Homo sapiens: one gene and its partners. The protein of the gene in region 7 purifies or fractionates together with the protein of the main gene of each other region. This does not show direct contact. Each region holds a gene or a part of one and is shown on either strand. Other genes may lie near its edges. The genes, in order: POM121C, ARCN1, PPP1R12B, MYL12B, KIF11, MARF1 and PAN2.

Region 1 (3,500 bases), on a different chromosome or scaffold from region 7:
ATTCTAGTAAAACCGTTTGTTTTTCACTTTTTGCCGTTAACGAAAAAGTAGCTTTACTTGCTAAGGGGAACTGTTGTGAGTGTATAAATTATACTTTGGCCTGTTGGTTAGCTTCTGATTTCCGTTTCTGATGTGGCATGGGAATTAAAATATCTTACGGCTAGAATCTTGTCTTTCATTATAGACCAGAGCAGATAATCAGCTCAACACTGTCGTCACCATCAAGTAATGCCCCAGACCCATGTGCAAAGGAGACTGTACTGAGTGCCCTCAAAGAGAAGAAGAAGAAAAGGACAGTGGAGGAAGAAGACCAAATATTCCTTGATGGCCAGGAAAATAAAAGAAGGTAACAGGCTCAGGAGAGTACTAAGCCAGTTTCCCGCTTGGACCCCTATGGGATGAGATGTAGACATTCCCGTAAAGATACAGAGGCCACGTCCAGTTTGTGAGCCTTCATAGGCCTCCTTCTTTGGCTTTCATGAGAGAACCTAATAACAAGGGTTTTAATGCTGTTCATTTCAAGGCACAGGTTAGATCGATGTCATAATTTACCTTTTCTGTGAGTAGCAGAGATAAGCTGACAGCTATTAGCCATGTTAGCCTCATGCTTCTGTAGAAACGTGTTAAAAGTTTATTTTCAAGAAAGAAGGCTCTAAGTCTTCCGGTCGGAATTTTGTGGTGTTCAGTTATTTGGGTAACCACCAGTTCTAGTGTCTTTTTTTTTTTTTTTTTGAGTTGGAGTCTGTCTCTGTCCCCCAGGCTGGAGTGCAGTGGCCCGATCTCAGCTCACTGCAAGCTCAGCCTCCCAGGTTCATGCCATTCTCCTGCCTCAGCCCCCCGAGTAGCTGGGACTACAGGCGCCCGCCACCATGCCCAGCTAATTTTTTTGTATTTTTAGTAGAGACAGGGTCTCACCATATTGGCCAGGATGGTCTCAAACTCCTGACCTCGTGATCCGCCCACCTTGGCCTCCCAAAGTGCTGGGATTACAGGCTTGAGCCATGGCGCCCGGCCCACCAGTTCTAGTGTCTTAATTGTGCTGAAGGAAATGCTTGGGAAAGAAAAATGAAAACTAGAGTTTGGTAGTTTTATCAATAATGAGATTAAAACCAATTTCCTGGCAGGGCAAGGTGGCTCACGCCTATAATCCCAGCACCTTGAGAGGCCGAGGCGGGTGGATCACCTGAGGTCAGGAGTTCGAGACCAGCCTGGCCAACATGGTGAAACCCCGTCTCTACTAAAAATACAAAAATTAGCTGGATGTGGTGGTGGGTGCCTGTAGTCCCAGCTACTCCAGAGGCTGAGACAGGAGAACTGCTTGAACCCAGGAGGCGGAGGTTGCAGCGAGCCGAGACCATGCCAGTGCACTCTAGCCTGGGTGACAGAGCGAGACTGTCTCAAAAAAAAAAAAAAAAATTCCTTATGTGGTTTGTAAAATAACCTAATGAAAATGGAATAGTTTTCTAATTACAGAAAGAAAAGAAGTTGAAGTGGGTGAGCATTTACTGAGCACCCACTGTGTATGAGACCCTACTGCAAGTACTGTGGATAGAGCAGTGGACAAGACAAAATCTCTGCTCTCATGGGACTCTTGAGGGAAACACCATTTTATAAGGCTGGGTATGGTGGTGCATGCCTGTACTCCTAACACTTTGACAGGCCAAGGTGGGAGGATCGCTGGAACCCAGGAGCTCAAGACCAGCCTGGGCAACATAGGGAGCCCTCGCCTGTACAAAAAATTAAGAAATTAGCCAGGTGTGGTGGTGCATACTTGTAGTCCCAGCTGCGCTGGAGGCTGAGGCAGGAGAATTGGTTGAACCCGGGAGGCAGAGGTTTGTTGCAGTGAGCCAAGATTGTGCTATTGCACTCCAGCCTGGGCAACAAGAGTGAAACTCTGTCTGAAAAAAAAAAATTTACCTTTCAGAAACTTAGGGATTTTAAACAACCATTTTCTGGTCTAGCATGGAATCTGTGCTCCATAGAGATAGTATAAGGTCCCAGAAATGTGAGAATACACTTTAAAGGGACAAACAAAGTCATGTCATTTCATTTGAGACTTTTTTGATTTGTCGCAGGCGCCATGATAGCAGTGGCAGTGGACATTCAGCATTTGAGCCCCTGGTGGCCAGTGGAGTCCCCGCTTCTTTTGTGCCTAAGTAAGTGCGAGTCCATCCAGATGAAATACCAACTGTTTGGAAAAAGGCCTGATCAGAGCTGTTGCCCTATAGATTTTCCTCTTTGTTTTTTGCATTGCTTAATTAGTTCAGGTTCATGTCTTTGAAATTAGGAATATTCTGAGTAACTTGTCACAATTAACTGCCTTCTGTCTAATTCCTTTTAATGTTCTTGCATTAATATGGATGAAATATGCTGAGACTAGAGGTTTTATAAATATATTTAATAACCAAGCACATACACAGAAGGATTGCAAAGTTTGTGCAGCGGATAAGACAGTATGAAACTTAAATGTTTAATTTCTACATGTCAGTTTAAAAACAAATTGGAGGAAGAATTGGGTGGAAAGGAAAGTGGCTCAAAAGTCTGTGTGGAAAGACTTAGGATAACTTAGATACCTCATCTGAGTCAGCAGTGTGATGTGGCCACCAGGAAAGCTAAAGTGCTCCTGGTCTGTGCTGTTAGAAGAAAGACTAGAATGAGGCAGGTATTCCTGCCTTCCGTAGTTCTGCTCACTGTCCGTGGAGCACTGTGGTCAGATCAGCGTACTGCACTGCGAGGGAGGATGTACACAAACGGAAATTCATTCCCAGTGAAGCAACGAAGATGTTAAGGAGATTTGCAACAGCCCAGAGGGGTGGTGGTGGATGATGGGGTTTTGGAGGTATGGAAGTATTAACCCAGAGGAGAAAAATCTCAGGAGGAATAAAGAAATAAGTGAGGGAAGGACAATGGTCTCCAAAAAACCAAAGGACTGTCCCTTGAAAGAAGCGAAATAACTTGCTCTGTTTGACTTCAAATAGGATCCGTGGGTGAAAGTTAGAGGAAATACATTGTAATCCACTGTGAGAATAAACTGGTTCATGGTTGACGTGGGTCACTCTAGGAGAGCGTTGTCTATATTGTAACAGGTTGGATGACTGTCCTACAGGAAAGATGCATAGGAGATTTCTGTTTCCATTGGAGGTTTAGAAAAATGATGGGTTCCTCTTAACTCTGATTTTTTTTTAACAGCTTTGTTGAGGTATAATTGACATAACTGTACTTGTTTAAAGCATGTGACATTTTGACACGCATACACCTGTGGAACCATCCCACCACTAAGATAATGAACATCCATGACCTCCAAAAGTTCCCACATGCCTGTAATCCCTCTCTTTAGTTCCACCCGTGTCCCCAGGCATCCACTGATCTGTCTTCTGTCACTGTAGATAGGTATGCATTTTCCAGAATATTCTATAAATCATACATTTAAGTTTTAAATATTTGGCTTTTCTTACTGACTTTGTCAGATAGATTTGGCCAGATTGTTAGCAGTAAAAATT
Region 2 (3,500 bases), on a different chromosome or scaffold from region 7:
TTAAAAAAAAAAAAAAAAAAAAAAAAAAAAAAAAGAGAGACGGGGTTTTGCCATGTTGCCCAGGCTACAAATTCCTGGGCTAAAGTGATCCGCACACCTCAGCCTCCCAAAGTGCTGGGATTACAAGTGTGAGCCACAGCATCCGGCCAAGGCAATGGATTTTTGCCTTTGTCAATATTTTGATATTCAAATAATGAATATTGACTCTCCCCCCAAAATTTTACATACAGTTTCAGGGAATGCATCGATCCTCTAGAGAAGTTATTTCAAATGGCCCATAGAAAATCCCCTCATGCGATGAGAAATATTATTAATAAATGGGAGCATATTGTAAATGTAATCCCTGTAGAGCCTCCTATCCCTAAAAGGTTGAGAGTCATAGCTCTAGGAAGTCATGGTCCTCTATGTTAGAATTTTATGAGGTTTTGAAGAAATAAGACAAATCAAATGAACACCTAAAGAAAGGACAGCTCAGACCAAAACTTCAGACCTATATAAACATGCTGCATTTAATAGAAACCCCATATCTAATAATAAACCTGTTAGAAACAATGTTTACAGGCTCAAGGGTAGTTCTTAGGTTTCCAACTGGAGTTAAAAACACCTCTATACCATACAAGTAAAATTTAGGTAAAAACATCAAAAGCAACTTGAGAGGGAAAAAGGAACAAAAAGGTGTATGTTACTATCCACTTTATTTATTTATTTATTTATTTATTTATTTATTTATTTATTTATTTATTTTTTGAGAGAGTGTCTCACTCTGTAGTCCAGGCTGGAGTGCAGTGGTGCCATCTTGGCTCACTGCAAGCTCTGCCTCCTGAGTTCAAGCAATTCTCATGCCTCAGCCTCCTGAGTAACTGGGACTACAGGCACAGGCCAGCACCACCAAGCCTGGCTAATTTTTCTATTTTTAATAGAGACAGGGTTTTGCCATGTTGGGCAGGCTGGTCTCCAACTCCTGGCCTCAAGTCATCTGCGCGCCTTGGCCTCCAAAGTGTTGGGATTACAGGAGTGAGCCACTGCACCTGGCCCATCCACTTTACTGATGAGCATGTTCAAAAACTAATTATAGGTACTGGTAATCTCCATTTTTGCGATATTATAAGAATTAACTGAGTAATTATTTATCGAACATCTACTATACATACAACATGCTTTCTGAGAATTAAGATGACACAGGCTAGCATTCTGCCTACAAGAAGCTTAATAGGGATAAGACACAAACACAAATAACTGTAATATGAGGCAGAATGTGTTAAGTAACATGAGAGAGTAACCGATAAAGTGCGTGGAAATTCAGAGGAAGAGATTACTTCCAGCTGGTACAGTCAGGGATGACTTGATAGAAGAAACAGCATTTAGGCCGGGAGCGGTGGCTCATGCCTTAATCCAGCACTTTGGGAGCCAGGGCAGGCAGATCACCTGAGGTCAGGAGTTCGAGACCAGCCTGGTCAACATGGGAAAACCCTGTCTCTACCAAAAAATACAAAAAATTAGCCAAGTCTGGTGGTGCACGTCTGTAGTCCCAGCTACGGGGAGAGTGAGGTGGGAGGATTGCTTGAACCTGGGAGGCGGAAGTTGCAGTAAGCCAAGATCATACCACTTCACTCCAGCCTGGGCTACAAAGTGAGACTCTGCCTCAAAAAAAAAAAAGAAAGAAAGAAAGAAAGAAACAGAATTTAGATCATGCTTTGATGAATTCCAGGATTTGTTTGTTTTGAAACAGAGTCTTGCTCTATTGCCCAAGCTGTAGTGCAGTGGCGTGATCTTGGCTCAGTGCAGCCTCAACCTTCTGGGCTCAGGTGATTCTCCCACCTCAGCCTCCCAAGTATCTGGGACTACAGGCACAGGCCACCACACCTGGCTAATTTTTTGTATTTTTCTGTAGAGACAGGGTTTTGCCATGTTGCCCAGGCTGGTCTCAAACTCCCAACCTCAAGTGATCTGCCCGCCTGAGCCTCCCAAAGTGCTGGGATTACAGGCATGAGCCGCCACACCTGGCCAGAATTCCAGGCTTTCAGTACGTCAAGATGAAGAAAGAAGTAGGGTAAAATCATATGTCTCTCTTTGAGTCATTCCATTATCCAGATACAAGCAAAACAAGGCTTCCAAAATAGGACCATAGTTCCCCATACTAAGTATAGCATAAATCTCCGAACACCCAGGACACCACAAATTACAGGTTCCAGGCAGTTGACACAGGTCTCTCTGTTACAGCTACTAATATGGCTAGAAGGTATGGTCACCTCTAAACATGATAAATTTATCCTATCCTAAATTAACATTTGTCTTCTTAAAGTTCTTGAAATAATAAACCTCTTTACATTAATGTTTACTGGTTTAACAATTATTAAAATATAGCATATACTAAAAGGTAAGTTAACAATTTTCCCTATTGAAATTTGATCTGATTTTCTCTGAGGAAGAATTAATAAATATGATTACAAAGTTTTTGGTTTTTTTTTTTTTTTTTTTTTTTAACATTTTTGGAAAAAACATTCCAGATCTAAAAGGAACTTGCAAGAGCCCTTGATTGTCTTACAGATGTGAAAACTGAGGGCCCATAAGTTAGATGATCTCTCCAGGACGGTTAAAAAAAAAAAAAATTCCCTCATAAAGTTGAGCTTTGCCAAACAACTTTTAATAATTCTTACATGGTTTGAGTACACTATCTTTGGACTAAATAACAACTCTCTCCTACACAGACTTAACTACATGAATTGTTAAGTGCCTCAAGTAAAAAAACCTGGAGAATTAGGTTTCTGTTCTGCCTTTGCCACTAATTATGTGACCTTGGATAAGTCACTTAATTGATTATTGAAATATCCCTAACATAGGAGGTTAGTTTACATGAAATCCAAAGTGCTCTGTGTCTTTAAAGTTCTGTAAGTCTAAGCATTTGAAAACTACAGTAACAGAAAAAAAAAAAAACAACTACAGTGACAGAAAATGTACAATACTTCCATTTTATACCCACTGCTCCAGTTCTAACCACTTTGGAACAATATTTTATAGTAACATTAGGCTGCCAGAAGGCAAATTGTCTAACCATAACAAATTGTGTGTGCAAGAGAGATACAAGAATAACAGGTGGTATAATAATTCAGGATAAATATGCACAACTCTCTCTCAAAAAAAGTCAAGTTCTTTCTTGAATCTCTAAATGCTTCAGGATCCCTTACTTCCAGAATTATAGTCACCTTCTCCTTTGTAATTCACCGCAATATTTTATACACATATACATGCACACACAATTCATGGTCATATTAAGGCTAGTTTCTATAATTGTCAGGGAGGACTGTTCTGTCTTTTCTATTTATATGAAGCTATTATAGATAAAATCAGAGAGAAGATTACAATAAAATGTAGACCACATACGAAACCTAAAACTTGAAAAGTAATTTACTCAGTGAGGGTTTTAAGTCCATCACATTTCTATTCTAAAACAAAAGCTTGCAGAGAATTAAAACACACACACACACACACACACACACCCG
Region 3 (3,500 bases), on a different chromosome or scaffold from region 7:
CTGGCCGTGTTCCACTATATTTTTCTCTTTAGAGGTTTTCTTAGATTCTTAATTAACAACTAATATTGAATGTCTAAATGGTAGATTGTAAGTCTGTACTAGAGTATATATGTGGTATAATTTCTGCCCTCAAGGAACTAACAGTCAGGTTTGGAAACAGATAAATAAAAAAAAGATTCCTTTTAGAGTTCCAAATTCTATGATACCCTGGAAAGGATGTATTCCTAAGTGGAAGGACAAACGAAGGCAGTCCAGGATGGTAGAGCAGCATGGGCGAATAAATAGGAATGGGTGTGGTGTGTAGGCAGAGGATGCTAGGAAATCCTAATGGATGTGTTTGAAGGGTTAGAGATGAGAGAGAGTCAGGGTGACATCCTAGAGGGCTTTGAACATCAAACATCAGGCCAAGGTGGCTTGATGGACTCCTTAGTAGAGAATTTTTGTGGGTTTGAGCAGGGTCGTTACCCAACCAAAGCAGTATTTTAGGATTCTGAAGCAGCACTTGGATTTCTGAATGAATGGAGAGACAGAGTTGAGAGAACCAGCTGAGTGAATGGAGATGAGAAAAAAGTGTAGTACAATTCTAGCTTGTGAGTCTGAAAGAATTGTGTTATTCAGGTAGAAATAGTATTCAGTCAACGATTAGACTGAGGTACTCTGAAGACGTACAAATAGAAATCTCCTATAGGTGTTTAGCATGGTGGCCCATATCTGTAATCCCAGCACTTTGGGAGGCCAAGGCGGGAGGATTGCTGGAGACCAGGAGTTTGAGACCAGCCTGAGCAATGTGGTGAGACCCTATCTCTCCAACCCCCTCCCCACCCAAAAAAAAATTAGCCAGGTATGGTGGTGCAAACATGTGGTCCCAGTTACATAGGAGGCTGAGGTGGAAGGATCACTTGAGCCCAGGAGGTTGAAGCTGCAGTGAGCTGTGTTCACACCACTGCACTCCAGCCTGGGTGACAGAGCAGAGCAAGACTGTGTCTCAAATAAATAAGTAAGTAAGTAAGTAAATATCCTGTAGGTATCTATGTGACTCAAGGCTAGTCACTTTCCTATCTATGCTCCAGTTTTCTCATATTTGAGACAAGAGACTTGATTTTAGCATAAAGGTGAGAGTTGAAGTAATGAGTGTGAAAGAGGAAAGGGAGAAAACATACAGAGAAGAGCAGAAAACACAAGCAGCTGGTAGGCAGAGAATGCAGAAATTCAAGTTAGAGCTGTTGGAAGATGTGGTAGGCTGACTAATGGTGCCCCAAAAATGTCTAAGTCCTAATCCCCAGAACATGTAAATATGTTACCTTACAGGGTAAAAGAGACTTTGGGGATATGATTAATTTAAGGATCTTGAGATAAGGAGATTAGCCTGGATTATCCAGGTGAGCCCAATATAATCACAAGCATCCATATAAGACAGGCAAGAGAGCAGAATCAGAATAGGAGATGTGATGAAGGAAGCAAGAGATTGCAGGGATTCCAGGAAGGTTCTGTGAGCCAAGGAATGCAGGTGGACCCTAGAAGCTGAAAAAGGCAAGGAAGTGGATTCTTCTCTCAGAGCCTCCACATAAGGAACCAGCCCTGCCAGCAATTTGACAACTCAGCCCAATGAGACTGATTTCAGACTTTTTTTTTTTTTTTTTGAGACTGAATTTTGCTCTTGACCCCTAGGCTGGAGTGCAGTGGCACAATCTTGGCTCACTACAACCTCCGCTGCCCGGGATCAAGCGATTCTCCTGCCTCAGCCTCCTTATTAGCTGGGATTACAGGCGCCCACCACCACAACCAGCTAATTTTTGTATTTTTAGTAGAGACGTGGTTTTGCCTTGTTGGCCAGGCTGGTCTCAAACTCCTGACTTCAGGTGATCCACCCGCCTTGGCCTCCCAAGGATTACAGGTGTGAGCCACTGGGGATTACAGTTGTGAGCCACTGCATCTGGCCATGATTCAGACTTCTGACCTCCAGAATGCTATGATAATAAATTTGTGTTGTTTTAAGCAACTAAGTTTATGGTAATTTGTTATAGCAGCAATAGGAAACTAATACAGAGAAGAACCGACAAACAGTGATATTGAGGTATTTCAAGGAATGGATGGTAAATAATGTAAAAGGAAATTGAGGAGAAGGCCTGTAAAAAGACTGTTGGATTTGGTCATTTAAACTTTGAAAGAGCACTTTCAGTAGAGATATTTTTGAAGACTTTTGTGGAGGTTATATGAAGTTTTTTTTTGCATTAAGGATAACTTGTCTTTCTGTTGACTTTTGGGAGAAAAAATATAGATTTTCCATCAATATAATTGTAATTTAAATGAGGGCCCAAAATATGTGGCAAGACACTTTAAAAGCTGAATTCTGGCTAGTTCAGGTGGTTTCATTATTCATCAGTTAAGAATATTTTAGGATATTAAACCTGATAATAGGGGCAAGAAAGTTATGTCCCTATTACTGATGGCTGCTTATCTAGTTTATTTTACTTCTCAGTCTAGTTTGGCCCATTTCCCACTCATTAGCACTTCCACTGGAAGGCAGCCTTGGGGGAACAGTGATAGGGAGGTTAGTACCAATAAACAGTTTTTTCTGCCATTCTCTTACATTTATTTCTTGAGTGTCTACTGTGTATCTGATTCTGTGCTGCTTGTTACTTTTACTTAGCAGTAGATACAATTTAGAAACTAACTTGAATTTTGGGATTGGTCTCCAGAATAGTTGGTTACTATTATAACTTATAATAGGAAATTGGCTACATAACCGATTTCTGTTCTAGCATTCTGGCTCTTGAGGAGTGTCAGGGGAGTACTATATTTATCAGTATTTGAGACTATTTTATGCTTATGGAGGAGAATTACATATATATCTTCTCTAAGATGGTGAAATATGGAGGTTTGGGATGTCTAATAAATCTTTAATGGTTCAACATAGTAATAATAAATCCAGATTAAGACCTTGGCCCAGAATGTCATATAGGACAAGGAATTGAAGCCTCATTTGGATTGCTAATTGAGTGCTTGCCCAATTTGTTGATGTTGTTTTTGTCTGTGAATATGTTGGGGTTTTTCCTGCTTTTGAAGTGTCATTTAAAAAAATTGTTTCTTCTGATCTTAGATTGTAACCAGTTTGAGTAAAATTTGGGGGCTTAAAGTTTTATCAGGCATGCAGAGTTTATGTTTGTTTCATGAGGCAATTCAATTGAAAAACTGAAGCTTTGCCCAGGCGCGGTGGCTCACGCCTGTAATCCCAGCACTTTGGGAGGCCAAGGCAGGCAGATCACGAGGTCAGGAGATTGAGACCATCCTGGCTAACACGGTGAAACCCTGTCTCTACTAAATATACAAAAAATTAGCCGGGCGTGGTCGCACGCGCCTGTTGTCCCAGCTACTCGGGAGACTGAGGCAGGAGAATCACTTGAACCCGGGAGGTGGAGGTTGCAGTGAGCCAAGGTGGCACCACTGCACTCCAGCCTGGGTGACAGAGCGAGACTCCGTCTCAAAAAAAAAAAAAAAAA
Region 4 (3,414 bases), on a different chromosome or scaffold from region 7:
AAGGGTGGGTTTGATATTTATAAAGATGAGACCTTTTTTGAACATGACTAGTCTTTTTACATATGTTATCTCAATTAGTTCTTTGCATTGAAGTAGATATCATGTTTTACTGATGAAAAATTGAGGCTCAGAGAGGTTATGTTATACTGGTAGTAAAATGGGAATAAGAGTACCTACCATAGGCAACTGTTGTGAGGATTAAATGGGGACAGTCTTTGTCAGAGTAAGAAATCAACTTTGGAGACTTTCTCTTTGAGGAAGCCCTATGCCTTCATAACAGTGCTTGGCCAGAGTAAGTACTCCATAGATGCTAGCTATTGTTAGATATTTTAAATTCTCACTTCATAAAAATTGATCCCCTGAAGTTTAGGACAAGGTACATCAATAATTTCTATTGTGTTTCTTTCTTTTTTAGAGATGGGAGTCTCACTATGTTGCCCAGGCAAGTCTCGAACTCCTAGTCTCAAGTGAGCCTCCCACCTTGGCCTCCCAAAGTGTTGGGATTATAGGCATGAGCCACTGGTGTCTGGCAAATTCTGTTCCTTAATGTTTCAAAACTGCTTTTTTTCCACTCAGTCATTTAATTGTCACATTGAAAATAAAGTTTAGGTGCATACTTATTCCTACCCAATTGAAGTAATAATTCCTTATTGATATTTTTACCTACAGACTTTAGGTATTATGTATTCTGTTTTTGCTTTGTTTTATACATTGTTTTGTTTTACGTTTTTGTGTTTTTTTTTTAATCCAGAATTAAACAACCACCATGTCGAGCAAAAAGGCAAAGACCAAGACCACCAAGAAGCGCCCTCAGCGTGCAACATCCAATGTGTTTGCCATGTTTGACCAGTCACAGATTCAGGAGTTCAAAGAGGCCTTCAACATGATTGATCAGAACAGAGATGGCTTCATCGACAAGGAAGATTTGCATGATATGCTTGCTTCTCTAGGTAGACTTTATATTCTTTATTTGTATTTTCCCTAAAATAATAATTTGTCTCTTTATGAATCTTTTTTTTGTGCGATGTACAAATATTTCTCTCCTTGTCTCAAAAGGCCTCTGGAGAGATTTCTGGGTGTGGGAGGTGCTATTTTGGGGCTTGGCCAGTCATATGGAGATAAGCCTACAAGGTTGGGGACCTGGCAGATGCTGTGCCCGGGTAGGCTAATGTTCCTGTTAGCTAAATTTTTTAGGTCTCTAGATGGAAAGCCAGGGCATGGCTAGGCAGCAAAATACCAGAGTTTCAAACAAGTGTAGCTAAATAATATACTTAATAAAGGTTGAGTACAGGTTATAAACAAGGAGTGACAGTAAGTGATGATGGTTATCTCTGGGAAGGAGGGGCAGTGCGACTGGAAAAGGGAACACAGTGAAGAAGACTTTCACAATATTTTGTATGATTTTTTTAATAACTAAAATGTAAAGATACAGGATTTAAAGCACACATAAACAGCCATTTGTATGTTGGTATATGGGTGTTAATATTCCTTGTATGATTTTGTTATTGTTTCTTAACATGCATCCTACATGTTCTGGCCAGAGTCAGCAGTTAATTTACAGTTGGGAGTCAAGGAACTGCAGGCAAAGGAGACCTTGATAGGCCAAAGCGGAGGGGGTGAGGCAGGCTGGGAGTGGGTCAGGGATGGCCTACAGTGAGACTTTGCGCTCTGTCCTCCTGCTTGGCTGACTGGCCAAAAAGGCAAAGAAAGAGGTGGGGGTTTTTTTTTTCTCTCTTTTAATGCCTACAAAATGATCAGCTAGCTTTTATTCTTCTAACTTTTGATTTTGATTATTTCTCCTAACACATTGAAAGTAAAGTTTAGGTGTGTACTTATTCCTATCCAACATATGATTTTGAAAACTTTTAAGCCTACAAAAAGTGGAAAGAACATTATAGTGAACACCTATACATCTTTAGCTATATTCACTGATTGTTAACATTTTGTAACTTTTCTTTATCTAGGGTGAGAGTAGAATCAAAGATTTTTATCTGATTTGTTGACTTGTAGTTAGATTATAACCTAGTGTTTCTCACATTCAGAATGTCTGAGTATGTTCTTGGGCAAGTCAGTACTGAAGAAGGCCTCTGAGGAAAATTGAGGAATGTAGCCATCTTCCAAAGATTGAACTCTCAAGTCTATACTCTGCTTATAATAGATGCTCAATAGATATTTGTTGAACGAACAAGTCATGGTAGAGTCAGAGGTTGTCTTTGAGACCTTCTGTTTTGCAGAAACCCATCCTTTTAAAGATACGTGTTAAAAGAACAATTTCAGCCTAATTAAATTTAATGGAGTTTAATTGAGCAATGAACAATTTGCGAATCAGGTAACCCCAGAATCACAGCAGATTCACAGAGACTCCAGTGCAGCCACGTGGTAGAAGAAGATTTATAGACAAAAAAAGGGAAATGACGTACAGGAATTGGAAGTGAGGTATGGAATGGCTTGATTGATTACAGCTCGGCATATGCCTTATTTGAACATGGTTTGAACACTCAGCAGTGTATGAATGGTTGAAGTATGGCTGCTGAGATTGGCCAAGGCTTAGCAGTTGTTACAGGCTCATACTCCTAAGTTAGGTTTTCAGTCTTGTCTGACTATTAAGCTAGGTTATAATTCATTCACAAGGACTCAACTGTAGAAGTACGGAGTCTTTCTCAGGCCATATTTAGTTTGCTTTAACATATGTATTTACCTTTTAGGGGAACCTTCATACATTATTGGTAGGAATGTAAATAAGTACAGCCACTGTGAAGGACATTATGGAGGTTCCTCAGAGAACTAAAAATAGGAGCTCTCCCATATGATCCAGCAATCCCACTGCTAGGTATATACCCCCAAAAAAGGAAATCAGTAGTATCATTGAAGAGGTATCTGCACTCCCATGTTTATTCCAGCACTATTCACAGCAGCCATGATTTGAAAACACCGTAAGTGTCCGTCACCAGATGAACGGATTTTAAAAATGTGGTACTTATGTACAATGGAATACTGTTCGACCATAAAAAATGAGATCCTGTCATTGCAGCAACATGGATGGAATGGAAGACATTATGTTAAGTGAAATAAGCCAGGCACAGAAAGACAAACTTCACATGTTCTCACACACTTGTGGGAGCTAAAAGTTAAAATAATTGAACTCATGGAGATGGAAAGTAGAAGGATGGTTATCAGAGACTGGGAAGGGCAGGGAGAAGAGTGGGAACTGTTAATAGATACAAAAGTATAGATAGAATGAATAAGATCTAGTATTGGATAGAATAACAAGGTGACTGCAGTCAGCAGTAATTTGTTGTACATTTTAAAATAACTCAGTATAGTTGGAATGTTGGTAACACAAAGAAATGATAAATGCTTGAAGGGATGGCTATGCCATTTACCTTGATGTGATTATTTTGCATTATATGCCTG
Region 5 (3,500 bases), on a different chromosome or scaffold from region 7:
AGGAGCTGGGACTACAGGCGCCTGCCATCTCTCCCGGCTAATTTTTTGTATTTTTAGTAGAGACGGGGTTTCACCATATTAGCCAGGATGGTCTCCATCTCCTGACCTTGTGATCTGCCCGCCTTGGCCTCCCTAAGAGCCGGGATTACAGGCGTGAGCTACGGAGCCCGGCCTTGAGTTACTTCTTACTTTTAGCTATTATGAATAATGTTGCTATGAATATGGGTTTTCAATTCTTTTGGGTATTTACCCAGAATTGTAATTGCTGGATCATATGATAATTCTATTTTAAAGTTTTTGAGGAACCGACAAACTATTTTCCACAGTGGCTGGACCATTTTACATTCCTACCAACAGTGCATAAGGGTTCCAATTTCTCCACATCCTCACCAACGTTTATTTTCTGTTTCTTTTTTTTTTTTCAAGTAGCCATCCATTGGGTGTGAGGTGCTATCTCATTGTAGTTTTGATTTGTATTTCCCTAATGATTAATGATGTTGAGCATCTTTTCATGTGTTTACTGGCCATTTTGTGTATCTTTGGAGAAATGTCTGTTTAAGTCCTTTGCCCATTTTTAAATTGGTTTGCTTTTTTGTTGTTGAGTTTTAGGAATTTTCTATATATTTTGGATATTTTCAGATACATAAACGGCAAAAATTTTTTCCCCATTACTGTGGTTTGCCTTTTTACTCATTGATACCGTGTGGTCTTTTCCTTTCTTTTTCTTTTTGGAACCAGTGCATGGCCTCTTTGTTGATTCTGTGTTTGGCCCCAGTGCAGCCTGTTCTGTGCTATGTGTCTGCAGTGCTGAAACCAGGCCTACCCAGCACCATACAGAAGTCCAGGCTGTAGATACCAATGCATGGGTCACATTTGATACCCAAATCTGTGTGTTCCTGGATCTCCAAACCAAAGTTTCCAGTATCTGAGAAGTTGTTCTTTCTTGATTCACACTCCTGCATCTTTAGACCTTTCTTCAGGGTTTCTTCTGCTTTGGCCCTTTGTGCAGTGGGTGGCAATCTTCACTTCTCCTGATGCCAAAGGATCTGACAATGTATTTGACTTTGGAGAACACAGGGGTCTGGCCTATGAGCTGCTCCAACACCTTGGCTGCTGGGGTCAGTCATCTCCAGTCTCCTCCATACAGATGTTGAGACAGAAAATCGTTCTGTCACCCAGGCTGGAGTGCAGTGGCACAGTCTCGGCTCACTGTAACCTCTGCCTGTCAGGTTCAAGCAATTCTTATGCTTCAGCCTCCCAAGTATCTGGGATTACAGGTGTGCACCACCATGCCTGGCTAATTTTTTGTATTTTTAGTAGAGATGGGGTTTCGCCTTGTTGGCCAGGCTGGTCTTGAACTACTGGCCTCAAGTGATCCACCCATTTTGGCCTCCCAAAGTGCTGGGATTATGAGTGTGAGCCCTCATCTGGCCAGAGTTCTCTTTTTTTTACCTTGATCTTGCACTATGATGGAGAAAAGGAAGATAAAGTCTTTTTTTTTCCCTTGGGTTTGTTTGTTTGTTTGTTTGTTTGTTTTTTGAGACGGAATTTTGCTCTCGTTGCCTAGGCTGGAGTGCATTGGTACGATCTTGGCTTACTGCAACCTCCGCCTCCTGGGTTCAAGCCATTTTCCTGCCTCAGCCTCTAGAGTAGCTGGGATTACAGGCATGCGCCACCACGCCTGGCTAATTTTGTATTTTTAGTAGAGATGGGGTTTCACCATGTTGGTCAGGCTGGTCTTGATCTCCTGATCTCAGGTGATCCGTCCACCCTGGCCTCCCAAAGTACTGGGATTACAGGCGTGAGCCCGTGCCTGGGCTATTTTTTTTTTCTCCCCTTTAAATATAGTATCTTGCTTTATTGCCCAGACTTGTTGTGAACTCCTGGACTCAAATAGTCCTCCTACCTCAGCCTTCCAGGTAGCTGGGATCACAGGGATGCTGTCTTTTGATACACAAACATTTTAAATTTTTATGAAGTCCAGTTTGTCTTTTTGTTTTTGTTCCCTGTATCTTTGGTGTTATATCCAAGAAATCATTGCCAAATCCATTGTTGTGAAGCTTTTGCCTTATGTTTTCTTCTAAGAGTTTTATAGCTTTAGGTCTTACATACATTTTTGATCCATTTTGAGTTAATATTTGTATATTGTGTTAGATAAGGGTCCAACCTCATTCTTTTGCATATGGATATTTAGTTTCCCAGCACCATTTGGTGAAAAGCTTGTCTTTTTCTGATTGAATGGTCTTGGCAACCTTATTAAAAATCATTTGCTCATATGTAAGAGGGCTTATTTCTAAGTGCTGTTATGTTCCATTGGTCTATAAGTCTGTCTTTATGTCAGTACCACATGGTTTTGATTATTGCAGCTTTGTAGTAAGTTTTGAAATCAGGAAGTGTGAGTCCTCCAGCTTTGTTCTTTTTCAAGATTGTTTTGGCTATCTGGACTCCCTTGGGATTCCATATGAATTTGAGGATGAATTTTTCTATTTTTGTAAAACACGTCATTGGGATTTTAATAGGGATTACATTGAATCTATAGATCACTTTGGGTAGTATTGGCATCTTAACAATATTAAGTCTTTCAGTTCATGAACAAGGGATGTGTTTCCATTTATTTATGCCCCTTAATTTCTGCCAGCAGTTTTTTTTTGTTTGTTTTTGTTTTGAGATGGAGTTTCGCTCTTGTTGTCCAGGCTGGAGTGCAGTGGCACAATCTTAGCTCATTGCAACCTCCACCTCCCGAGTTCAAGTGATTCTCCTGCCTCAGCCTCCTGAGTAGCTGGGATTACAGGTATGTGGCACCACGACCAGCTAATTTTTGTATTTTTACTAGAGACAAAGTTTCACCATGTTGGTCAGGCTGGTCACGAACTCTTGACCTCAGGTGATCCACCCACCTTGGCCTCCCAAAGTGCTGGGATTATAGGCGTGAGCCACTGCGCCTGGCCTCAGCAGTGTTTTATAGTTTTCATTTTATAAGTCTTTCACCTCCTTGGTTAAATTAATTACTAATATTTTATTCTTTTTGGTGCTATTTTAAATTGAGTTGTTTTTGTAATTTCCTTTTTAGATTGTTCATTCTTAGTGTATAAAAATGTAACTGGAGGCTGGACGCAGTGGCTCTCACCTGTTATCCCAGCACTTTGGGAGGCAAGGTGGGCCTCCCAACTCCTGATCACGAGATCAGGAGTTCAAGGCCAGCCTGGCCAACATAGTGAAACCCTGTCTCTACTAAAAATACAAAAATTAGCCATGCATCGTGGCGCGTGCCTGTAGTCCCAGCTACTTAGGAGGCTGAGGCAGGAGAATCGCTTGAACCTGGAAGGTGGAGGTTGTGGTGAGCCAAGATCGTGCCACTGTACTCCAGCCTGGGCAACAGAGTGAGACTCTGTCTCAAAAAAAAAAAAAAAGAAAAAAGAAACGTCGCTGGATTTTGCTTGTTGACTTTCTATCCAGCTACTTTGCTGAATTCACTTATTAGTTCTAACAGTTTTTTTTTG
Region 6 (3,500 bases), on a different chromosome or scaffold from region 7:
GAAATTACCAAAAGGAAGTTACTGAGGCATGGTGGCTGCTAAAGATGTAAACAGGCCCTCCCACCCCAGTCTGTTTCAATTCAGGAAGAATGTAGTCTTAATTTTAGTTGTGTGTTCCAGTGTTCATGTCCTGCAGACCTCTCTGAAGAATGTTCCTGGTTTTAACTAGCTGTGATTCCATTTTGTTCAGTTATGATTTAGTGATGTAACAGAATTGAACACTATTTCTGTTTGTGCATGCAGTAAGATATGAGTAACCAAAAAACCACGGACCTCATAAAATTAATTTATGTTCTGATTTTCTTTTCTCAGAAAGAGTACATGGAGAACAAGAAAGTTGCTGTGGAACTAAAGGATGTACCATCACCCCTTCATGCTGGCTCTAAGCTTTTTCCAGCAGTCCCACTTCCTGATATTCGTTCTCTTCAGCAGCCTAAAATACAGCTTTCTTCTGTCCCCAAAGTAAGCTGCTGTGCTCATTGCCCTAATGAACCCTCCACTTCGCCAATGCGTTTTGGTGGTGGTGGTGGCGGTAGCGGAGGTACCAGTAGCTTGATTCACCCGGGCGCACTGTTAGACTCGCAAAGCACCAGGACAATCACGTGTCAGGTAGGGTCAGGGTTTGCTTTCCAGTCTGCATCTTCACTCCAGAATGCCTCAGCTAGGAACAATTTGGCAGGCATTGCAAGTGACTTTCCCAGCATGTGTCTAGAGAGTAACCTGTCTTCCTGCAAACACCTGCCCTGTTGTGGAAAACTCCACTTCCAGTCATGTCATGGTAATGTGCACAAGCTGCATCAGTTTCCGAGTCTGCAGGGCTGCACCTCCGCTGGCTATTTCCCCTGTTCTGATTTCACAAGCGGGGCTCCAGGGCATTTGGAAGAGCACATTTCACAGTCGGAGCTAACGCCTCACTTGTGCACCAACTCTTTGCACCTTAATGTGGTACCTCCGGTTTGTTTAAAGGGCTCACTTTACTGCGAAGACTGTCTAAACAAGGTTCGTATCTTTTTATTTCTTAAGTTGGGTGCAGCTGAGGATTGAGGAATGACTTTTGAAGTGGATTTATCTTGAAAAGTATTATACATGGGGTTGAAGATTCTCCCATGGTATAGGGGAATCTCCCCATCAGCATAATTTTTGCTGGTTCTGAAAGAAACAAAGGGTAAGATGGGAGATCATTCAAAAAAGTAGAGAGTCATTATTTTTGTAGTTTATACTTTTAGAGCCTCTTGTTGCAAACAAGAGGTTGGCAAAGCCTTCGTGTTCTATGTTTAAAGGCTAAAGCACGATGGATTTTTTATAACTTACATTCAGCTTACACATGGGCCCATTCATGTAAGGTAGATAACTGCATGTTGTCTTTTTGCAATAATGTGGGAAACCTGAAGCTTGGCCTCAGTCACATTGGTGTTCAAGTGAGACTTTGCTACCCTTTATGTAAAATATGTGTGAGGTCTTCGTTGCAGCAGACTCATGCCCCAGAATGTAAAGATCTGACCACGTGAATATCTTTCTTGATCATGTCAAGTCACTTCTGGAAATGAATTTATGAACTGATAGCTAATGGTTCTTGGAAAGATTATTTGAAAGTCCTTTTTATTAGAGGCTAGCAAGTGGAAAGGTAAAACACTTAGAGTGTATTTTCAGTTGTTGTATATAACTCCAGCTTCTGAAATGATGTATCTGACACCTCCTCCTTTTTAAAAAAAATTTAAAACAGCCAGCAAGAAATAGCATAATCGATGCGGCTAAAGTCTGGCCAAATATACCACCTCCAAATACTCAACCTGCACCTCTTGCTGTCCCTCTGTGTAATGGCTGTGGAACCAAAGGAACAGGGAAGGAGACCACGTTGTTATTGGCGACCAGTCTAGGCAAAGCTGCTTCAAAATTTGGTAAATGACAGTATGGCATAAAATGTGCATATTTAAATAGCTTTCAATATCTCATACTAACATTGCATTTAATCACCTTTGAAGGATTCCTTATGGTTCTAAAGCTACTGTGTATGTGAGTCTCCAATTCCATATCTTGGTAGAAATCTTTTTATTATTATGGACCAGGAAGTCATTTGCCCTTTATGTTGGGCCGAGGCTATACACAGAAGCTGTGTATAGAAAAATTGGTAGTATATCAGGAGAAATAAAAGTGCTGGAAAAGACTTGGTGTCACCTTAGGTTGGAAATCACACTTGTTGATGGTATACTCCCTAGAAGTGCTTAGAACAATTTACTAATGGCTGATTAAAAACAGTATTTGAAAACCAAAGAGTTCTCAGTTAAAATAATTTCCCTAAAAAGTAGTTAATGCGACGTTTTGAAAACATTTTTAAAATATTAAATCAGATGTTAATGCAGCGTTAACTCAAAATCAACGACAGTAACAGCTTCACCCTTTGTCAGCTCCTCAGTGTTGGTTACTACCAAGTAGGTAGATAAGTGTGGGCTAAGCTTGAAAGTCGGGTCCTGGAGCTGCAGTATCCGGTCAGTTAGTGTGCTTGTGTTCAGAGAAGCATCACTGCTTAATGTCAGAGTGGCTCATGCTTGGAGGTGGATTTATTGTGGGCTTAAAGTTACTTGACTTTTAGATTTGTCTTCTCCTGAAAAACAGAAATAATCTCTTAGAGTGATACTTTTTGACAGCTTGATTGCTTATTAGGTCAACCAGTGAGGTTGGTAGCCTTAAAACTTGGCATTCATTAATAATTTAGTTTTTCTACCACTGAGAATGATAGGTAGTTTATTATCTTATTGTAACTTGCCATTTATTTTCCACTACAAGTAATTGAAAATGTTAACATTTCTTAAGGGTCACCAGAAGTTGCAGTAGCTGGACAGGTGCTAGAAAACTTACCCCCCATTGGAGTTTTTTGGGATATTGAAAACTGCTCCGTTCCCTCTGGCCGGTCAGCAACTGCTGTTGTGCAAAGAATCCGTGAGAAGTTTTTTAAAGGCCACAGAGAAGCAGAATTCATCTGTGTATGTGACATCAGTAAAGAAAACAAGGAAGTTATTCAAGAGCTGAATAATTGCCAGGTAAAAAAAAAAAATTTAATAATTTTAATCTACAGTAGAGGAATAAGCAGATATTTGTTTGTTTGTTTGTTTTGAGACAGAGTCTAAGTGTCACCCAGGCTGGAGTGCAGTGACGCATTCATGGCTCCCTGCAGCCTCGAACCCTGGGACCCCAGTGATCCTCCCACCTCAGCCTCCCAACTAGCCAGGATCACAGATGCACGCCATCATGCTCGGCTCATTTTTTATTTTTTGTAGAGACGAGGTCTCCCTATGTTCCAACCAGAAACAGAAACTAAGAACCCATGACTGTATTCTGTCCCTTGGACACCCCTGGATGGCTTTCAGGATCCAGGGTTAGGTGGTGGAGGCTTGTCTCAAACTCCTGGGATCAAGCAGTCCTCTTGCCTTGGCCTCTAAAAGTGCTGTACGTGTGTGTGTGTGTGTGTGTGTGTGTGTGTGGTGTTTTTTTTTTTTTTAGAA
Region 7 (3,500 bases):
TGGTGAAACCCCCGTCTCTACTGAAAATATAAAAATTAGCTGGGTGTGGTGGCAGGTTCCTATAATCCCAGCTACTTGGGAGGCTGAAGCAGGAGAATTGCTTGAACCTGGGAGGCAGAGGTTGCAGTGAGCTGAGATCACACCACTGCACTCCTGCCTGGGTGACAGGGCAAGACTCCGTCTCAAAAAAAAGAAAAAGAAAAATACAATGAGGCCAGGCACAGTGGCACCTGTAATCCCGGCACTTTGATAAGCCAAGGTGGGAGGGTTGCTTGAGCCTAAGAGTTCAATACCAGTCTGGGCAACATAGCAAGACCCCATCTCTATTAAAAGAAAAATACAGGCCGGGCGCGGTGGCTCACGCCTGTAATCCCAGCACTTTGGGAGGCCGAGGCGGGCGGATCACGAGGTCAGGAGATCGAGACCATCCCGGCTAAAACGGTGAAACCCCGTCTCTACTAAAAATACAAAAAATTAGCCGGGCGTAGTGGCGGGCGCCTGTAGTCCCAGCTACTTGGGAGGCTGAGGCAGGAGAATGGCGTGAACCCGGGAGGCGGAGCTTGCAGTGAGCCGAGATCCCGCCACTGCACTCCAGCCTGGGCGACAGAGCGAGACTCCGTCTCAAAAAAAAAAAAAAAAAAAAAAAAGAAAAATACAGTTGAGTAAGGGGGTTGAGGTAATGAAGGGTGGGAAATGTTGCTATTTTGTTTGGTTTTGTAGTGTTTTGTTTTAATTTTAATCTTTTTTCCTAATGGCTCTTTTAGAAACAATGTTGCTACTTTAAATAGTTGGTCAGGAGTTCTCTCTGATAAAGTAACATTTGAATAGAGACTTGGATGCAGCACCAAAAAGGGGAACAAAGAGGCAGAGCTCCATGCCTCTAACTTATCCTTGTGCCTCTCCTTTACTATTCTAGGCCCTCTAGAAGGGAGGGAAGGAGCCATGTAGATATCTGGGGAAGGAACATTCTAGAGAACTTCATATGCTGTGTTAAAAGAGCTTGGACCTTGGACTTGAACCTTCAGGCCACTGAAGGGCTTTTTTTTTTTTTTTTTTTTAGGTGGAATCTCACTCTGTTGCCCAGGTTGGAGTGAAGTGGTGCCATCTCAGCTCACTGCAACCTCTGCCTCCCAGGTTAAAGTAATCCTCCTGCCTCAGCCTCCTGAGTAGCTGGGACTACAGGTGTGTGCCACCATGCTCAGCTAATTTTTGTATTTTTAGTAGAGATGACGTTTCACCATGTTGGCCAGGCTGGTGTCAAACTCCTGGCCTCAAGTGATCCACCTGCCTTGGCCTCCCAAAGTGCTGGGATTACAGTGTGAGCCACAGCACCCAGCCTCAGATTTGGGAAATATTTAGGAAGCAAAATAGGCCAGGTGCGGTGACTGATGCCTGTAATCCTAGAATTTTGGGAGGCCGAGGCAGGTGGATCACCTGAGGTCAGGAGTTCGAAACCAGCCTGGCCAACATGGTGAAACCCCCTTTCTACTAAAAATACAAAAAATTAGCTAGGTGTGGTGGTGCATGCCTGTAATCCTGGCTACTTGGGAGGCAGGAGAATTGCTTGAACCTGGGAGGCAGAGGTTGCAGTGAGCTGAGATCGTGCCATTGCACTCCAGCCTGGGCAACAAGAGTGAAACTCCATCTCAAAAAATAAATACATAAATAAAAATTTTAAAAAATCCTTGGTTATCTAGTGGTTAGGAAAAAAATACATAGGACTTGACTGTCAGATATATGGCTTGGTCAACTAGGTAGATCTTGGTACCATAGAGAATACAGTAAGAAAAATAGAAATAAAAATGGTGAATTTAATTTAGGATGTCATGAGTTTGAGGTTATGATGGGATGTTTAAGGAGGTTTAGTAGTTACCATCATCTTCTTGGTATCCATGTGGGATTGGTTCCAAGATCTAAAGATACCAGATACCAAAATTCAAGGATGCCTAAATCCGTTATAGAAAATGATATAGTATTTGCATATAACCTTATGCACATCCTCCCAGATGTGAAACATAAGAAAGCCAGCTGGCCAGTAGAGAATTGGACCATGTCCCTGACCTTCTATATACTGTTCTAACCAAGTGAGCCATTACCTATTCAGCAGGGTCATTGTGAGGACAAAATGAGGTAGAGTTTACCAAAATGCTGTGTAACACATTAAACAAACATAAGACAGTATTATCAGTGTCTTTATCACTAAGATTGACTGGTTCCTAGCCTTTTGCCCCAGTTGCTCCTAGTCACAAAGGCCAAGCAAGAAAGGATCCAAGCTGAGCCATGTTCAGTCCCTGACCTGGCCGTAGGGTGGCCCTTGCCCCTCCACTCTAAGTGTCTCTGTTGTCTTTGTCCTCTATAGGGCCATGCCACTTCATTTTTTGGCCCAGCCTTGGAGCGCTACTCATCCTTTCAAGTCAATGGCAGTGATGATATTCGGCAGATCCAGAGCCTGGAGAATGGTATCCTTTTTCTCACCAAGAACAACCTCAAGTATATGGCCCGTGGGGGCCTCATTATATTTGATTACCTGTAAGTGGCTTCTCAGCTCTGGACTAGGAACGAGGATGCCTCATAGGGTGGGAAGGCTAAGGGATTGGCAGCTTGTAAGGCCTGGGCCCCTTAGCCTTTCCTCTCCCCACCAGGCTGGATGAGAATGAGGATATGCACAGTCTCCTACTGACTGACAGCAGCACTCTACTCGTTGGTGGGCTGCAGAATCACATAATAGAGATTGATCTTAACACTGTCCAGGAGACTCAGAAGGTACAAGCTTGGGGCAAGAAAGACCTATGTGGGGTCTGAGGTTGTTGCGGGGGCAGGGTATGCTTGGGCTGGTAATGTGCCTGAGATGTGGGTGTGACCTTTCTGTTCCCTTGGTCTGTGGGAAAAATCATTCTTCTCACTGGTTTTTCCTGCTTCCCTCTCCAGTATGCAGTAGAGACGCCTGGAGTCACCATCATGAGACAGACAAATCGCTTCTTCTTCTGCGGCCACACGTCTGGCAAGGTGGCCAAGTTCCATTTCTCCTCCCACTGCAGGGCCCTGTTTCACTAGATACCTGATTGCGATCTGCTTTCCCTTAACTCTGGGGTGTAGTTGGATTGGAGGTGAGGGATGAGTGGAGTGAATTCACTTCCTACTCAGTGATGTTCTACTATGAGATTATTTTGCAGCTTGATGTTTTCTATGATAATGAAGTCTCCCTGAAGCCCCTTCTGGCTCTGGGCTTCTCTGTTTGCCTTTTCTGTGCTTTAACTTTCCCTGTCCTAAAGCCCTAGTTCCTTTGGTAGGGACCCCACTGGGTTAGGTAGGTGGCAGGTATTTTTCCTGATAACAGAATTTGCAGATAACTGAATTTTTTTTTTCTAGGTTTCCCTGAGAGACCTCCGTACTTTTAAGGTGGAACATGAGTTTGATGCCTTCTCAGGAAGTCTGTCAGACTTTGATGTGCATGGCAACCTGCTAGCTGCCTGTGGCTTCTCCAGCCGCCTCACTGGCCT

What was found.
Region 1: the proteins of PAN2 (region 7) and POM121C purify together in Homo sapiens (affinity purification with mass spectrometry, with the first as the bait; one large-scale study listed by BioGRID). This does not show direct contact.
Region 2: the proteins of PAN2 (region 7) and ARCN1 purify together in Homo sapiens (affinity purification with mass spectrometry; one large-scale study listed by BioGRID and IntAct). This does not show direct contact.
Region 3: the proteins of PAN2 (region 7) and PPP1R12B purify together in Homo sapiens (affinity purification with mass spectrometry, with the first as the bait; one large-scale study listed by BioGRID). This does not show direct contact.
Region 4: the proteins of PAN2 (region 7) and MYL12B purify together in Homo sapiens (affinity purification with mass spectrometry, with the first as the bait; one large-scale study listed by BioGRID). This does not show direct contact.
Region 5: the proteins of PAN2 (region 7) and KIF11 purify together in Homo sapiens (affinity purification with mass spectrometry, with the first as the bait; one large-scale study listed by BioGRID). This does not show direct contact.
Region 6: the proteins of PAN2 (region 7) and MARF1 purify together in Homo sapiens (affinity purification with mass spectrometry, with the first as the bait; one large-scale study listed by BioGRID). This does not show direct contact.

Annotation. Positions count from the first base shown.
Region 1 is NC_000007.14:75,437,800-75,441,299, reverse strand, and holds part of POM121C (nuclear envelope pore membrane protein POM 121C), read left to right. Parts: intron 1-184; coding exon 185-346; intron 347-2,075; coding exon 2,076-2,156; intron 2,157-3,500. UniProt on the Homo sapiens protein: Essential component of the nuclear pore complex (NPC). The repeat-containing domain may be involved in anchoring components of the pore complex to the pore membrane. When overexpressed in cells induces the formation of cytoplasmic annulate lamellae (AL).
Region 2 is NC_000011.10:118,575,409-118,578,908, reverse strand, and holds part of ARCN1 (coatomer subunit delta), read right to left. Parts: exon of another isoform or gene 2,011-3,500; intron 1-2,010. UniProt on the Homo sapiens protein: Component of the coatomer, a cytosolic protein complex that binds to dilysine motifs and reversibly associates with Golgi non-clathrin-coated vesicles, which further mediate biosynthetic protein transport from the ER, via the Golgi up to the trans Golgi network.
Region 3 is NC_000001.11:202,355,199-202,358,698, forward strand, and holds part of PPP1R12B (protein phosphatase 1 regulatory subunit 12B), read left to right. Parts: intron 1-3,500. UniProt on the Homo sapiens protein: Regulates myosin phosphatase activity. Augments Ca(2+) sensitivity of the contractile apparatus.
Region 4 is NC_000018.10:3,272,133-3,275,546, forward strand, and holds part of MYL12B (myosin regulatory light chain 12B), read left to right. Parts: intron 1-751; 5' UTR 752-766; coding exon 767-950; intron 951-3,414. UniProt on the Homo sapiens protein: Myosin regulatory subunit that plays an important role in regulation of both smooth muscle and nonmuscle cell contractile activity via its phosphorylation. Phosphorylation triggers actin polymerization in vascular smooth muscle.
Region 5 is NC_000010.11:92,596,130-92,599,629, forward strand, and holds part of KIF11 (kinesin-like protein KIF11), read left to right. Parts: intron 1-729; exon of another isoform or gene 730-1,160; intron 1,161-3,500. UniProt on the Homo sapiens protein: Motor protein required for establishing a bipolar spindle and thus contributing to chromosome congression during mitosis. Required in non-mitotic cells for transport of secretory proteins from the Golgi complex to the cell surface.
Region 6 is NC_000016.10:15,633,155-15,636,654, reverse strand, and holds part of MARF1 (meiosis regulator and mRNA stability factor 1), read left to right. Parts: intron 1-312; coding exon 313-999; exon of another isoform or gene 1,000-1,149; intron 1,150-1,723; coding exon 1,724-1,898; intron 1,899-2,395; exon of another isoform or gene 2,396-2,645; intron 2,646-2,811; coding exon 2,812-3,038; intron 3,039-3,500.
Region 7 is NC_000012.12:56,327,501-56,331,000, reverse strand, and holds part of PAN2 (PAN2-PAN3 deadenylation complex catalytic subunit PAN2), read left to right. Parts: intron 1-2,359; coding exon 2,360-2,529; intron 2,530-2,642; coding exon 2,643-2,763; intron 2,764-2,928; coding exon 2,929-3,006; intron 3,007-3,369; coding exon 3,370-3,500. UniProt on the Homo sapiens protein: Catalytic subunit of the poly(A)-nuclease (PAN) deadenylation complex, one of two cytoplasmic mRNA deadenylases involved in general and miRNA-mediated mRNA turnover.